Regions from separate parts of the Homo sapiens genome. Here region 2 is linked to region 1. A link means that fine-mapping ties the variant in region 1 to the expression of a gene that starts in the linked region. Tissue or cell type: ileum. Region 1 holds a variant in brackets; the other region holds the start of a gene. All regions are shown on one strand. Distances are from middle to middle.

Region 1 (8,101 bases):
AATCCATGAGGCAGAGGTTGCAGTGAGCTGAGATTGTGCCACTGCAATCCACTCTGTCTCAAAAAAAAAAAAAAAGGCCAGACACGGTGGATCACGAGGTCGGGAGATCGAGACCATCCTGGCTAACATGGTGAAACCCCGTCTCTACTAAAAATACAAAAAAAATTAGCCTGGCACCTGTAGTCCCAGCTACTTGGGAGGCTGAGGCAGGAGAATGGCATGAACCTGGGAGGCGGAGCTTGCAGTGAGTCGAGATCGTGCCACTGCACTCCAGCCTGGGAGACTGAGCAAGACTCCGTCTCAAAAAAAAAAAAAGAGTAGTATTCCTCAAACATTGAAACCCAACAAAAACTTGGATTTTATTTCCAACTCTTGCACCATCTTGAGTAGAGGGTCACCTAAGGCCAGAGTCGTAGCCCCTAAGGTAAGCTAGGACATGGTTTCTGTTTTGTTTTTGTTGGCAATATTTTCCCTGGTGAACATTTACATCCATAAATTTAAATTTCTAATTATGTAAGTGGGGTCACTTCAGTTCTTTATCAGGAGTATTTCCAAGCATTTCAGCTGGAATGTGATTGCAGAACACTTGCTCGTTGGGAGAAGTGAGTGTGTGGGAGAACCTCTCCAACCTCTCAGCCAGGCTGCAGGACTGGTATGTAGTGTGCCAGGTGCTGGTGAAAACCGTGCTTTATTTTCCTACATAGATTTCCAAATCTGAAGTCTGTCCGAGAACTCATTTTGAAACGTGGACAAGCCAAGGTCAAGAATAAGACCATCCCTCTGACAGACAATACAGTGATTGAGGAGCACCTGGGTGAGTGCTACAGCTTAGGGATCAGCTGGGGCAGAAAGCCAGGGTCTTTGAAGCTTTGATGTGAGATTCAGGTTGTATTCTTCTTGGGGCCCCAAGAGTCTGCCAGAGTGGCCAGCTTAGTATATGCTGGATACATGTTAAATAAAGGAATCTGTGCTTTTGTGTTTCTTAGGGAAGTTTGGCGTCATTTGCTTGGAAGACCTCATTCATGAAATTGCCTTCCCAGGGAAGCATTTCCAGGAGATCTCATGGTTCTTGTGCCCTTTCCACCTCTCAGTGGCCCGTCATGCTACCAAAAATAGAGTGGGCTTCCTCAAGGAGATGGGCACACCTGGCTATCGGGGTGAACGCATCAATCAGCTCATCCGTCAGCTGAACTAGACCCAGGTGAGGCAGGGCTGAAAACTGCCCTTGGGCTGACTTTTGATAGGCCATGCCTTGCCACTTTACAAGTTCTTTTTGCATTTACTAGTATTTAAGAGTAACCTTGAGATTGGGAGGAATAGAGGAGGCTGGTACAAATAGATGGAGACCTGCTGGGATCAGTGAATGCCTGATTAGGACATGGGGCTATGCATAGCCTAAGAGTTATAGGCTTAAAGATGTCGAGTAACTAAAAACTGTATTGCTGGCCGGGCGCGGTGGCTCACGCCTGTAATCCCAGCACTTTGGGAGGCCAAGGCGGGCAGACCATGAGGTCAGGAGATTGAGACCATCCTGGCCAACATGGTGAAACCCTGTCTCTACTAAAAATACAAAAATGAGCTGGGTGTGGTGGCGCGTGCCTGTAGTCCCAGCTACTCGAGAGGCTAAGGCAGGAAAATCGCTTGAACCCAGGAGGCAGAGATTGCAGTGAGCCAAGATTGCACCAGTGCACTCCAGCTGGGCGACAGAGCGAGACTCCATCTCGGAAAAAAAAAAAAAAAAACTATTGCTGCAGTCATTCAGATGGAAATGAGGAAAGAATAATATTAATAACTGATTTCAAAAAGGACTTGAAGATGTGAATCATCTATTTTGCTGAAGAAATCTTAACTCTTTGAAATTACTTTTTATTGCTGTTGTCATACTCTTAGGTGCCAAACTGCGGTAAATTTTTTATCAGTGAAGTGGAAGCATGTGTTTTGTTTTGGAAATTTTTATCAAGTATCTTCAGAGAAGATTATTTCCTGCTTTATCTTCAGAAACTGGAAAGGGTCAAAGAAAAGACAGTAGCTGGCCGGTCGTGGTGGCTCATGCCTGTAATCCCAACACTTAGGGAGGCTGAGGTGGGCAGATCACCTGAGGTTGGGAGTTCGAGACCAGCCTGACCAACATGGAGAAATGCCATCTCTACTAAAAATACAAAAATTAGCCGGGCATGGTGGCACGTGCCTGTAATCCCAGCTACTCAGGAGGCTGAGGCAGGAGAATCGCTTGAACCTGGGAGGTGGAAGTTGCAGTGAGCTGAGATCACGCCATTGCACTCCAGCCTGGGCAACAAGCGAAACTCTGTCTCAAAAAAAAAGAAAAGACAGTAGCATATGTTCATGTCAAGCACCTCTCATCACAGTCGAGTTCCAAGGAAAAATTCCAGTGTTTTCTGCATTGGGTGCTGTGTCATCTGAAATCGGCACATTCCATGGAGGAAGGAGTCCTGCTTTGTTGCATGTATCCTAGGGTTTAATGTTGGTAAATGAGTCACTCTAGCATTTGTAGAAGGCTCCCTGAGACTCCTGCAGCAGTCGACCAAGCCCAAGGACATAATTGAATCTGGAGAGTCCTGGGGCCTTGTTTTGAAAAAGACTTGAAATACACATAGGAAGAAAGGCATAAAAATAAATGTTCACTTGTCTCTGCTGTGAGTATGTGTTCCAACTTTTCAGTGATGGCTTTGAGAATTCTCAAACTTGACTGGCTCTAAGTGTATCTGGTGGCTTTTGTATCGTAACCTGAAACTGGCTTAGTACTTTTTCCTAAAAGCTCAGGATTTGAGAATGAGGACCCCTTCGCCAGGAAAACATGTATACACTCAAAATTTTGCTTGCAGTTCTAGGGTGTTTAGACCCTTCTCAGATACCTGTGCATCTTATGGGTTTTGTTTTTCTCTTTGAGACAGTCTCACCCTGTTGCCCAGGCTGGAGCGCAGTGGCATGATCTCAGCTCATTGCAGCCTCCACCTCCTGGGTTCAAGTGATTCTGCCTCAGCCCCTTGATCAGCTGGGATTACATGCATGTACCACCACACCCAGCTAATTCTTGTATTTTTAGTAGAGATGGAGACAGAGTTTCACCATGTAGGCCAGGCTAGTCTCAAACTCCTGACCTCAAGTGATCCACAAGCCTGGGCCTCCCAAAGTGCTGGGATTACAGGCATGAGCAACTGCGCCCAGCTCTTGTGTACCTTATGTGAGGAAGTCCTGCTCAATCAGGATCGGTCACGCAGGCCCTGATCTTGCTACTCTGGTTCCATGTCCTATGGAAGACCAAAGTTTACCAAGATAGATTTTTCCCTTCATAGTGGCAGATAGTGTTAACCCCTGCACCATCTGTAACTCAGAAATCCCCACCATTTCTTCCCCTGGGCTTCAGAATAGAATTGCCTGGTTTCTCTGATGATCAGCATGGTTCCTTAAAACCCAAATCAGCAAGGAATGAACAATTTTGTTTGGCATGGATGAAATTAGCACTGTTTGGCTCGTTAGGCCCCAGGCAGGCAGGCACCTTAATTTTTTCCTTGCATATTCTAGTCTTCAGAAGCATTGCCTTTTGTCCTACTGGTAGTGACATAGACCAATAACAGGGCATCTGGGGATTTTAATCCTGAAAACAGTGAGTCTGATACTGCTTGTGTTTTTCATCAGTGTCCACCCCAAGTGGGTCTTCCTGCTATTCTCTTCACTTAGTTGCCCCTCACTTGCCATCTGAGCAATTGGCAAGGATGTGCCAGGCCTAGGTTAAACTTGGAAACATGCTTGACCATTCTATTCCCTGGTCCTTTAAGATCAGTTTGGCTGCAATTTTGGCTCCTTGGACCCTCAAGCATAGCTGGTAAATCAAGTTAGAGATGTAACTGCCTTAAAACATGCCAGCTTAGGCTGGGCACGGTGGCTCACACCTGTAATCTCAACACTTCAGGAGGCTGAGGCAGGCAGATCACTTGAGGTCAGGAGTTCGAGACCAGCCTGACCAACATGGAGAAATTCTGTCCCTACTGAAAATACAAAATTAGCCGGATGTGGTGGTGCATGCCTGTAATCCCAGCTACTTGGGAGGCTGAGGCAAGAGAATTGCTTGAACCCAGGGAGGCAGAGGTTGCAGTGAGCCGAGATCACACCATTGCACTCCACCTTGGGCAACAAAAGCAAAACTCTGTCTCAAAAAAAAAAAAAAAAAAAGTGCCAGCGTATGAGGTAATTAGATTGGTTCTCTCCAGAGGTAACCTGCCAAGAAGAGATGCTATAGATGTTACTCCTATACTGTAAAACATTGTGAAATCAGATTACTTTAAAAT[G/A]ATGTATTACAAAGTTATGCAAAAAAGCAGTTGTGACTATGGAAGCCCAAGGCTTATATCCCAGCTCTGTCTTACACTAAATATGGGTACAGTGTTTCCACTCTGTCCATAAAATGGGAGCTAATATTCTCCAACCTGTGTGCCTGACATGATGGTTAAAGGGATTAAACAAAACAATAGTTTGTAATTTATTCTGTCAGAGCAAACTGCTGGTAAATAAAAGGGACTAAGTTGACGAAAAATAAATTTTAAAAAACCTAATAAAACAAGTTTGTAATTTATAATTGTATACAAATAAAAGATGTTACAAAAATTGCGCACTTATATGTATGTACCATGACATAACTAATTCGTTGAACAAGTTGTGAGACAATCCTTTCTGAGAAAAGGTAGACCTGTTACATCGTCTGTGGGTTAGGGTCATGTCAGCACGTACCAGGTACATTCTAGCTTTTGTAGAGAAAGTAAAATCTAGTGTTGAGTATGTAGGCACTGAGCCAGGTGGCCTGCTTAACATAAAAGGACTGATTTCAGGGTGGCTGTGGGAGCCTTTCTAATGCTCTAATTCTCTAGCCCCTTGCCTGATCCAGCTGATTCCAAGAGCCAAGATTTTAGTCTTTCTTGGTTGGCTTTTTTAAATGCTTTGGGCTTTCCTTTAATGTATCTTCAAAATCATTCTGGGGCCAAGTTACATCATAAAACATTTTATTACATATAAGGACTGAAACAGGATTTTTCTTAACTGTAACATGGTCCACAAATGTAAATGCAAAACCCCCATGGTGGTTGCAGGAGCAAGTCTAGTTGAGACAGGTCAGGACGAAAGCATAAAAGATGAGTAACTGAATGGCATCCCGGGTCCTGTAGCCACGCCCTCCAGATCGCCGCCGCAAAGGACCTGGAACCTCAGGGGCCCACTGTATGCCATGAAGAAGGCGCAGTCGCTGCCTCAACCAAGCCAGGCTCCGCCGGGGCCGTTCCTATCCTGAGGGTCGGAGGGGGAAGGGACTCAGCCAAAGCCGCGGCCTCCCAGGGCTTGGGCCTCCGCGGCAGCCGGGACGCTGTGGGTTCGCCGTGGATCGCCGCGATGTGGCGTTTCTCCAGGCCCGGGAGTTCCTGGCCCTGCTGGACCAGCTGCAGGAGCTGCGCCAGGGTAACCGAAGCTGAGGCAGAGGCCGGGGCCGAGCATTGGGGACTGCGGGGACGCTCCATGTCGGGTCGCGAATCCTGACCGGCGTGTAATGCAGAGAAGCGAGCACTTCCGGGCCGAATGGGTGCAACCACCATGGGGGAGGTGGGGAAAGGAAAGGGAGGCTGTAGACCGTACCAAGCCGGCCCAGAACTGGGGGAGCACTTGACAACTCTGACCAGCTCCCTGCAGAAACGCTTTAGAAGCGTCCACGATTTAGCCAAACCCAGAGTGCCCAACGGACGCGCCAAAGAAGAAAAACGGACGGACGTGCCAAAACTTGAAGGCTAGCACAGGACAGAACAAGCCTGCGGACGCGCCGCTGCGGGCAAAAAGACCCATACATACATAAGCACCGCGCACATGCCCATTTTCATGCACACCCCCGGGCGCGCGTACAAGGATTCAGATACAACGCATGGCGGGGGATAATCCCCATACTAGGCTCCGCAGCACGGGACAAAGCATAACTGTAGAGTTGTTCCCAGAGGCCTCAGGAGTGACACCGCCACCAAGCCACGCTACTCTCTTAGTTGTTATTATTGTTTTGTGTTGTTTTAGACGGAGTCTCACTCTGTTGCCCAGGCCGGAGTGCAGCGATGCGATCTCAGCGCACTGCAACCTCCGCCTCCTGGTTCAAGCGATCCACAGGGTCCCTAGTGCCTCAGCCTCCCTAGTAGCTGGTGTATGCCACCAAGCCCAGCTAATTTTTGTATTTTTAGTAGAAACAGGGTTTCACCATGTTGGCTAGGCTAGTCTCGAACTCCTGACCTTAAGTGATGCACCCGCCTCAGCTTTCCAAAGTGCGGGGATTACAGGTGTGAGCCACCGCACCCAGCCAGAGCCTCACCACTTTCTTCACACTTCCTGCCATCCTTCAATTCTTGGTGGTCCCAGAGAAGATCGAAGGTGAAAGCAGGTCAGATGTGCTACAGCTGCTCTGACTGCTCGGAAAGTCAGGTTTTTAAATTATCAAAAGTGGCCGGGCACGGTGGCTCACACTTGTAATCCCAGCACTTTGGGAGGTGGAGGCAGGTGGATCTCAAGGTCAGGAGTTTGAGACCAGCCTGACCAACATGGGGCAACCCCCGTCTCTACTAAAAATACAAAAATTAGCTGGGTGTGGTGGCATGCACCTGTAATCCCAGCTACTCAGGAGGCTGAGGCAGGAGAATCGCTTGAACCTGGGAGGCAGAAGTTGCAGTGAGCTGAGATTGCAGCACTGCACTCTACCCTCGGTGACACAGCAAAACTCTGTCTCAAAAAAAAAAAAAAAAAGTATCAAAAGCTAGACTGATCTGGTGAACATCACCTTAATCAAAGAATCAAAGCTTAATGGCCAGGCGTGGTGGCTCACACCTGTAATCCCAGCACTTTGGGAGGCTGAGGTGGGCAGGTCACCTGAGATCAGGAGTTTGAGACCAGCCTGGCCAACATGGCGAAACCCCATCTCTACTAAAAATACAAAAAAATTAGCCAGGCATAGTGGTGCGCACCTGTAATCCCACCTACTTGGGAGGCTGAGGCAGAAGAATTGCTTGAACCTAGGAGGCAGGGAGGTTGCAGTGAGATGAGATCACACCACTGCACTCCAGCCTGGGCAACAGAGTGAGACTCAGTCTCAAAAAAAAAAAAAAAAAAAAAGCTTAATAGGACAAACTGGCCTTGTGTGCCTTCTGATGTGATGCACTGGGAAGGACACACACACGGGGAGTACATTTCTGTAGTAGTCCTCCCCAAAATGCCCAAAAAATGTTCACTCACCACCTAGTCTTGAGGAAATAGAGATCAAAGTGAGAGAGATTCTGCAAAATGATTGGTCTGGACACTTTACAGATGTCGTTGTTATAAAACATTAAGAAAAAGCTAAGAACTACCCCAGATTAAAGGAGACATAAAAAATAAATACAGGCCAGACACAGTGGCTCATGCCTTTAATCCCAGCACTTTGGGAGGCTGAGGTCGGTGGATTGCTTGAACTCAGGAATTCAAGACCAGCCTGGGCAATATAGCAAAACCCCATCTCTACTAAAAAATACAAAAAAAAAAAATTGCTGAACATGGTGGTGGACACCTGTAGTCCCAGCTATTCTGGAGGCAGTGGTCGAAGAATCGCTTGAACCCGGGTAGGTGGAGGTTGCACTGAGCTGTGATTGCCAGCAACTTCCGACTGGGAGACAGAGTGAAACTCTGTCTCCAAAAATAAAATAAAATATAAATAAATAAATAAATTCAATGAGTGATCCTGGATTAGATGCAAGATTGTGTAGGGGAGATCAGCTCTAAAGGACATTTTACCCTTGGGGAAATTTGAATATGATCCATATATTAGATGACAACGATATATCAATGTTAAATTTATCAAGTGTGATAATTGTGGTTATGTGTGGGAATTACCTTGTTCATAGCAAATACATTCTGAAGTATGTAGAGGTGAAGTGTCATGATGACAGAAAGAAAGCAAATGTGGCAAAATTGCTAAGAATTAGTGAATCCACGTGAGGGTTTGAAACTTGTCAAAATAAAAAGTTGGGGTAGGCCCGGTGCAGTGGCTCACGCCTATAATCCCAGCACTTTGGGAGTGGTCAAGGCAGGAGGATCACTT
Region 2 (8,101 bases), 120 kb after region 1:
GCAAGTGGGGCTGATGTCCCCTGCATGTTGATAGGACCTTGAGGGGCTGACTGGAGCGAAAAGATGCCTGTGTGCAAGATCTCTGTGATACCAAACAGCAGGGCAGCGGCCTGTTACACCGCTCCTTGGGTTCAGCTATTCTACAGGTCCTATCACAGCTTTGGAGATGTAATTCTATGCAGTGAGAAGCTGATGTGACCTTCTTTGAGAGTATGTGTAAAGAATCCCAGGGTTTTAGGCCGGGCACGGTGTCTCACGCCTGTAATCCTAGCACTTTGGGAGGCTGGCAAGGCGGGTGGATCACGAGGTCAGGAGTTTGAGACCAGCCTGCCCAACATAGTGAAACCCCCATCTCTACTAAAAATACAAAAATTAGCTGGGTGTAGTGGTGGATGCCTGTAGTCCCAGCTACTTGGGAGGCTGAGGCAGGAGAATCACTTGAACCTGGGAGGTGACGGTTGCAGTGAGCCGAGATCGTGCCACTGCACTCCAGCCTGGGCAACAGAGTGAGACTCCGTCTTAAAAAAAAAACTCAGGGTTTTGAAAAGACTTTTCTGCTAAAAGCAAGCACACTGTGGTGTAGATGCAGTCTGTCATGCTGCATCTACATGCCCATCATGCTGCTGGGAGGCCATTAGTGTGGGTTAGAGTGGGAAAGGATGGGAGGTAGGCAGGCCTTGGAGCATGGGGTGAGGGAAGGATGGACAGGTGGACCGATATTTGTGAAAACCATGAAATGCCAGTCTCAAACCAGGTGATTTGGCCAGAGCTCTCTTCTGATACTGCACAGAGGTTTGTGAACTGGAAGTAGTAAATGACAAAGCTCTTAGCAGAGATACCCCTGTGAGAGAACAAATTGGGTTCCTCACGCTAAGGGCAGGCTCTGGCCTCCTACACCTCATCTTTCTTCTTGGTGGCAGGACAATCCATGGACTGATCTATAATGCCCTGAAGTTGTTTATGGAAATGAATCAGAAGCTGTTTGATGACTGCACACAACAATACAAGGCAGAGAAGCAGAAGTGAGTATCTCTCTCCCCGGGAGACTTTCATCTTCTACCACCAGCTCACTGTGTTTCTCTCAAGCCCAACCCCAATCCTACTTTTGCTCCTCAGGGGCCGGTTCCGAATGAAGGAAAGGGAAGAGATGTGGCAAAAAATCGAGGAGCTGGCCCGGCTTAATCCCCAGGTGAGGTTTTCCTGCCACTGTTGTGAACTGAGGGGCCAGCCCATCTTGAGCTGGGGGAGAGTTTGTTGGGGGAGGAATATGGGGCACACAGGCCCCCAAGCCTCTGAAGTGGCTCTTAACGCTTGTCCATGTCTCCTCACTCAGTATCCCATGTTCCGAGCCCCTCCACCACTGCCCCCTGTGTACTCGATGGAGACAGAGACCCCCACAGCTGAGGACATCCAGCTTCTGAAGAGGACTGTGGAGACTGAGGCTGTTCAGGTGGGAGGGCAATGTAGGGGGATGGAGCAGAAATAATAGCTCTGGAAGGGAGAGGAGACAGAAACAGCAGAGCCAAAGAATAAGGGGACGGAACAATAGAATTCACTGGGAATTGGTCACCATTCCTCACCTTGTCCCTATTCACACACAGATGCTAAAAGACATCAAGAAGGAGAAAGTGCTGCTGCGGAGGAAGTCGGAGCTGCCCCAGGACGTGTACACCATCAAGGCACTGGAGGCGCACAAGCGGGCGGAAGAGTTCCTAACTGCCAGCCAGGAGGCTCTCTGACCCCTCACGTTCCTACCACAGGGCCACAGCCCACACAGCCCTGGGACACTGCCCTGGCCCTCCATACTCTGCTCCCTACTGGCTGTCTTGGGGGAAGGCAGCGCCTCTCTAGCTACTCAAGGGAGGGGGATGTGGGCACTTGAAGCAGGGACACCCACAGAATGGTCCCTCTTCTCCCCAAAAGGTGTTCATGCCTCCCTGTGGCTAGTACAGGCTGAGCACTAAGATGCTTAGTGCTCAGACAACCTGGGGATGCCTGTCCCCTACCTGCTCCTCACCCACAGCTACCTGAGGCTGCTCTGAGAAGTACACACAGGAATACATACGCTCCTCTATTCTTCCCTTCATCCTCATTTGAACGCCAGGTATCTCCCCTCCTCTCTCTCCCCTGCAGAGGCATGTAGGGAACAGCAGGAGATTATTCTCACCAAAGTTATGTCAAGCCCCATTGGTCCCAGAGTAGCTGAAGGGAAGCCAACCCCCCTGCAGCACAAATAGGCCCCCCAGTCCCAGCCGTGTGCTGGCAGATAGGGTTGTATTATTTCTTCTTACCCCATGCCTGACCAAGGGAGGTCAAAAGGAGAAAAGTATAGGCTGTGGACAATAACTGATGAATATAGGGCCCAGATGGACCAAGTGGGGCCGGGGAGGGATGAATAAACACCCTACCCCGTGCCCTGTCTTTGGTGAGCAGCAGCCCTGGGGTCACAGACATGGAAGGGACCACCCTGGGGCTGACTGCTTTTCTGTGCTGTTGGTTCCCAAAACTAGAAAGAAGGAAGCAGGGAGCGGTGCCCCAAGCATGGCTCCTGCCAACACCTATTTATTTCCTTGTTTGTGCTATGCTGGGCAGGCCTTCTCTTGTCCCTTATAGGTACCTTGGAGGGGCCAGGGGCTGAGGAAGGCCGGACCCAGGTTCCAGGGGCGCAGGCAGTGCGGCTTTTGGCTGTGTACATAGGGTGCTTTATTCTCCACAGAGTGATACATGCTAAGGTGGGTTGGGCTTGGACCGATGTCCCCATATGTACAGAACTGAATAAAGTGGGTCTCTGAGAAGTCTGATGTGCCTTGATGTGGAAAGGGAGACGGGGAAGATGGAAATGGACATTACAACCAGGGATGTGTTCAGTCCTGTGCTGGTTCTGGCCTGGAATGTAGGAATATAAGGCAGCTCTCACTGTGGTCACTTCCAGGCAGGGGATGCCTGCCGGGCTTGGAGGGCTTTCTGTACCACATCTTCCCACTGGGCATCCGATATCTCCCGAGCCCAGGCAGGAACCCCTGGCGCAGGCAGGCTTACTCCAGCCATTGTCCTTTTCACCAGCTCTACATGTTCTGAAATCAGAGCCAGAGGCCATTCAGGCATAGAAATAATGGGACCAGCTCCCCTCCCCAATCCCCGAATCAACCCAGAGCCCTTGGGCTGCTAGGGTCACCAAATCCACCTTGTTACTTTAAGGCAAGCCTGCCCATCCCCAAAGCTAGCAAAAGAGCATTTCACTTGGACTCTGAAGTCTACAAAATCTTAGTTTACAAACTATCTTTTTAGGATAGGGTCTTCCTCTGAAACTTCCTTCTACTGACTCATGCCAGTTCATTTCCTTAGTAATTATTCCAGAATGAAAGAATGATCTTTTACCTGGGTCCATGGGAATAGAGCTGTGGTTGTTCAACGCTGTAGCTCCCTCCTCATCTTCATCTTCACTCTCTAATGGTGGGTCTGGCAAATGAAGCCCCAGGGCCTGCAGAGCCACAGAAGACCGTTTGGGTCTAGGCTTTCAGGGAGCCCAGCTTCACCTGTTCAGGAACCATCCCTCCTCCACCCTACCTGGATTCGATCCTGGATGTCAGCAACTACATCTCCATCCCCCACTGGTGCCAGTTCCACCTCCTCTTGTTCAGGATCTTGGTTCAGGGGCTGGTAGGAGTAGCCAGCTGGGCCCGACCCCGTTTCCTCCTGCTCTTCCTCAGGCTCCTCACTGCTCCAATCCCCAGTGCCTTCTGAAGGGCCCTGATGTCCCAGTTCCTCAGTCTGATTGGGGAAGATACGCTCAGGGCCCATGGTGTCTCCTCCTAGAACTACTGTTGCCATCCGGGCAGGGGCTGCAAGAACAGGGAGGCGGTAGGACAGGGATCGGATGAAACCAGGCCCATCTTCATCCTCTCATCATCTCCTTGTAGTCTCCTGCGTGCAAAAAACCAGCTCCTCCCCGAGGCTCCTGCATCCTCCACCCCTCCGCCCCAATTCCAGCCTCTCGTTCCTCCCCCTCCTAAGTCGGGGTTCTTATCTTGAACCAGGCCCCACCAACTTGCTCCGCCACTTCCTAGTTAAACGCCCAACCGGAGGCCCTGCCACCTCCTAAAAGACACCCCTTCCAGAACCCCGGCTCCCCGCGCCACGCCTCCCCCGCGACTTGGGAACTCTGGGTCATCAGACTCCCCTAAACAGGTCGGCGTACCCGCCCCCTTCTCCCCTCTCCTAGAGGACCCCCTCTGTACCGCCTGACAGATGCCTTTCAGGCCCCATGGGCTCCCCTCAAATGGCCCCAGCTGCAGCGTCCCCCACCCGCCCCCATCCGAATCCCGGCGCCGGTGTTCCCGCGCGCCTCACCCGCTCAGAGCCCGCGGCCTCCACTTCCGGCGGGGCAGGACGTGCAGAGGTGCCTAGTCCTCCAGCCCCGCCCCATATCCATGATTGACGCTGGCGAGGACGAGGAGTCCGCCCCTTGCCCCGCCTCCGTCATTCCCAGCCCAAAAAACAAAGGACTGCATTACCCAGTGGCCTCCTCGGTCTCGACACATATTTGCACATGCGCAGAATCTCTCCTACGCCCCTGCCCACTCCTCAGCCCTCTCGTCCCTCAGGAAACGTATGGACTACAAGTCCCGAAATGCCTCCGGCACTTAGCTACGACTGCACGTGCGCGCACAGCTGCCCGCCGGAAGAACCGAGCTTGGCTGTGTTTATCTCGTTGGGGACTAAGGCGTCGGTTGGCGCGCAACGGGTTCTAGGCTGCAGGCAGCTCGAGGACCCGCGGCCCCGCCCCGGCTCGGCCTGGCAGGTAGCCTGGGATGGGTAGAAGGGCAAGGGAGAATTAGGGGGCTTAGGACGTGCTGTCTGGAGCTGGAGTGGCGGGGGAGGGGCCTGAGAGTGATGAGGTGGGGGTGGGGAGGGAGCTAGGGGGATGATGGGAAAGGAGAGTGTTAATGGGGAAAGCAGGGCTAGGGGAGGATGGCGAGGAGATGGGTAGGAGAGACCTGGTGTCTGGAGGAAGCAATGAAGGAAATGGGAAGGAAGACTGGGCCATGAAAACAGGGAAGCTGAGCATAATGGAAGGGGAGGGGTGTCTGGCGTGGTGGGCTAGGGGAGGCCGGAATGTCTGGAAGAAGACAGGGATAGAGTCATATGCAGAGAGGGGTATCGTGGTCAGTGCATGCTAATTTTTCTTTCCTTAGTGGAGGTGGGAAAATGGAGGGCTGTTGGGTGGAGCTTGGAATGGTAGGAGAAGGAAAAATGAGAAAACTGCAAAGCTCTCACGAGATCAAGAAGGGCGAGAAATGGGGAATAAAAAATGCAAGAGACCAGGCGGGTAGATACATTAAGGGAATAGAAGAAGTTTGAAAATGCTTGGTGGTGATGGAGGACTGGGGAGACCCAGGGATAAGAGGAGCCCCTGAGCGCCTGGGGGCTTGTTCTCCTTGAATTTGAGTTGTTTATATGGCAGAGAAACTAAAATTTTTTTTCTCCACCTTTGGCTGGAATTGCTTATCTCCTCTCCTGTGCATATTTTACTTTACCTTGACATATCTGAAGGGAAGAATAGAGAATATAAGGGAGGATGGAAGACTTCCATTCTTAAGCCCATCGACCTCCTAACAGTCTCCACAAGCCCAGACCCAAGATATTTTGGAGAGCGGGAGTAATGAAGTGAGAGTAGCTTCCTGCTGGGGCTATTTCAGGATGGGTCCCATGGCTATTTAAAGCTTAGGGTGTGGAGTTGGGGGAGGTTGGGTGGGTGGGACTAGCAAGCCAGCTGAAAGCCATGTCTCTTTCCTGCAAGGGGCCTCCCTTATTTGAGCTGTTTTAGTGCCTGAGGTTTTGCCTGGCCCTTTCCTCTGCCAGGGCTTCTTAAACAGGGAGCAGATGATGATACACCCAAACTCAGGAGATGCTTGCCAGCAAAAGCATTGTCAGTTGCAAGGATTTGCCTGAAAAAACCTCAGATGTACCCAGGTGTACGTGCCACTAGGTTGACAGGTTGTGTTTAAGAGACCATGACCAGCTGGGCATGGTGGCTCACGCCTGTAATCCCAGCACTTCAGGAGACCGAGGACGGTGGATCACCTGAGGTCAGGAGTTTGAGACCAGCCTGGCCAACATAGTGAGACCCCATCTCTACTAAAAATACAAAAATTAGCTGGGCATGGTGGCAGGCGCCTGTAATCCCAGCTACTTGGGAGGCTGAGGCAGGAGAATCGCTTGAACCCGGGAGGGAGGCAGAGTTTGCAGTGAGCTGAGATTGCACCATTGCGCTCCAGCCTGGGGGCAAGAGCGAGACTTCATCTAAAAAAAAAAAAAAAAAAAAAGACCATGACTTCTCATGCTGGATCTTTCTCTTGTCCTGCCCAAGGGCATTTTTTGCCTCCCTTCCCCTTTTTTTTTGTTTTGAGACAGAGTCTCGCTCTGTCGCCAGACTGGAGTGCAGTGGTGTGATCTCGGCTCACTCCAACCTCCGCCACCCGAGTGCAAGCAATTCTCCTGCCTCAGCCTCCTGAGTAGCTGGGACTACAGGTGCGCGCCACCGTGCCCAGCTAATTTTTGTATTTTTAGTAGAGACGGGTTTCACCATGTTGGCCAGGATGGTCTCCGTCTCTTGATCTCGTGATCCACCTGCCTCGGCCTCTCAGGGTGCTGGGATTACAGGTGTGAGCCACTGTGCCCAGCCCCTTCCCCTTTGCATTGCACACTCCCACCTCTATCCGCCTTTCAGGAACCCAAGTTGTGGAAGAGCTTGTTCTCTCTTTTCTACTGGAAATGGCTTGTTCTCTACCACAGTAGCAGGGATGGGGAAGTGGCAGGAGGAGAAAACCCCTCCCTCTATCACCATCCCCCAAGCCTAAGCATACACATACCTTTCTGGCTTAAGTCCTGGCAGCATACCAGGCACAGCTGTCAAAGGAACTCCTTGTGCCTGTGGGGGGCCCTGGGTGACCCCAATGACAACAACTCAGCTTGACAGGAGCTCCCTGTGAGGGGCTAACCAACCGCGGTAACATGGAGGTCCCTGTCCTGGATCAGTCCCGCCCTATCTTGGGTAGGGGGATTGTTCCACTCTAAAAGCCTGAAAGCTTTTCTGCTTTGAGGCACTCATGCCAGCTTTCAATGGACTGTTTGAGGCTGGCTGGGCTATTAATAGCTGTGAGTATTTTGAGATCCCTTTCCCCACCTCAAAGAACACAGATTCTTAGAGAGGTGGCAGTAAGCAGAGCAGAGACAAGAGAATATACCGTTTGGGAAGGGGGCTTCAAGTTTGTGCCAAGCCAGGGACAGAGTGGAGCCTCCACGAGTAGGTTGTGACCATGATATGCAGATTCTGAGCTGGCAATCAGGTGGGGGTGGCCCCACCCTTCACTGTTGGAGAACACTGGGCCCAGGCTGCTCCCTGACCTCGGCAGCTCCCTTGGGGCAGGGCCAGCCACCTGAGCTGAGACTAGTGCCCCTGTGGAGGGGTAGTGTGGGAGGGCCCCCAGGGTGACACTTGGAGGCAAAGGCTGGTTCTGGGCAGAGTCACAGTGAGCTGGGCAGAAGCCTCGCCTGAGGATCCCGTGGCCCCAATTTGTGTGCAGATAGCAGAGGCAGCAGGCCGTGCCGGGGGGGCATGTTGCTGTAACCAGTGGCCCAGGGGATGTTACGGTGGACAGTGCACCTGGAGGGCGGGCCCCGCAGGGTGAACCATGCTGCAGTGGCTGTCGGGCATCGGGTATACTCCTTCGGGGGTTACTGCTCTGGTGAAGACTATGAGACACTGCGTCAGATAGATGTGCACATTTTCAATGCAGGTAAGCCAATGCTGGGGCTGTCCCTGGGTCCCCACATCAGGGTGGGAACGGGCTGCTGATGAGGTTTGGCTGTGGTCTCTGGGACCAAGGGGATTGGGGACAAACATCTGGTTTGGGAAAAGTGGACAGCCTGGAGGGAGGTTCCCAGGGCTGAGCAGAGCTGTGCCCACAGTGTCCTTGCGTTGGACAAAGCTGCCCCCGGTGAAGTCTGCCATCCGTGGGCAAGCTCCTGTGGTACCCTACATGCGCTATGGACACTCAACCGTCCTCATCGACGACACAGTCCTCCTTTGGGGCGGGCG

The links. PIP is the estimated chance that this variant, and not a neighbour inherited with it, causes the effect.
Region 2: MEA1 starts here. The variant in region 1 is fine-mapped to the expression of MEA1 in ileum (GTEx, PIP 0.95).

The regions. Positions count from the first base shown.
Region 1 is chr6:42,885,270-42,893,370 of GRCh38, forward strand. RPL7L1 (ribosomal protein L7 like 1) reads left to right here. Exons shown (of 6, transcript NM_001366481.3): 5 at 705-814; 6 at 987-4,631. The coding sequence ends at 1,195. It overlaps PEX39 (peroxisomal biogenesis factor 39), which reads right to left and starts at 5,552. Exons shown (of 1, transcript NM_001008739.2): 1 at 4,996-5,552. The coding sequence starts at 5,519. The coding sequence ends at 5,214. RefSeq lists enhancers at 5,044-5,893, 5,954-6,003. The variant G/A (reference allele first, on the strand shown) is at 4,308.
Region 2 is chr6:43,009,548-43,017,648 of GRCh38, forward strand. MEA1 (male-enhanced antigen 1) reads right to left here and starts at 4,399. Exons shown (of 4, transcript NM_014623.4): 1 at 4,239-4,399; 2 at 3,568-3,842; 3 at 3,379-3,481; 4 at 1,596-3,074. The coding sequence starts at 4,266. The coding sequence ends at 2,923. PPP2R5D (protein phosphatase 2 regulatory subunit B'delta) reads left to right here. Exons shown (of 16, transcript NM_006245.4): 13 at 921-1,022; 14 at 1,117-1,189; 15 at 1,334-1,450; 16 at 1,602-2,795. The coding sequence ends at 1,739. It overlaps KLHDC3 (kelch domain containing 3), which reads left to right and starts at 4,702. Exons shown (of 11, transcript NM_057161.4): 1 at 4,702-4,801; 2 at 7,587-7,799; 3 at 7,972-8,101. The coding sequence starts at 7,646. RefSeq lists enhancers at 2,067-2,567, 4,531-4,650 and a silencer at 4,271-4,320.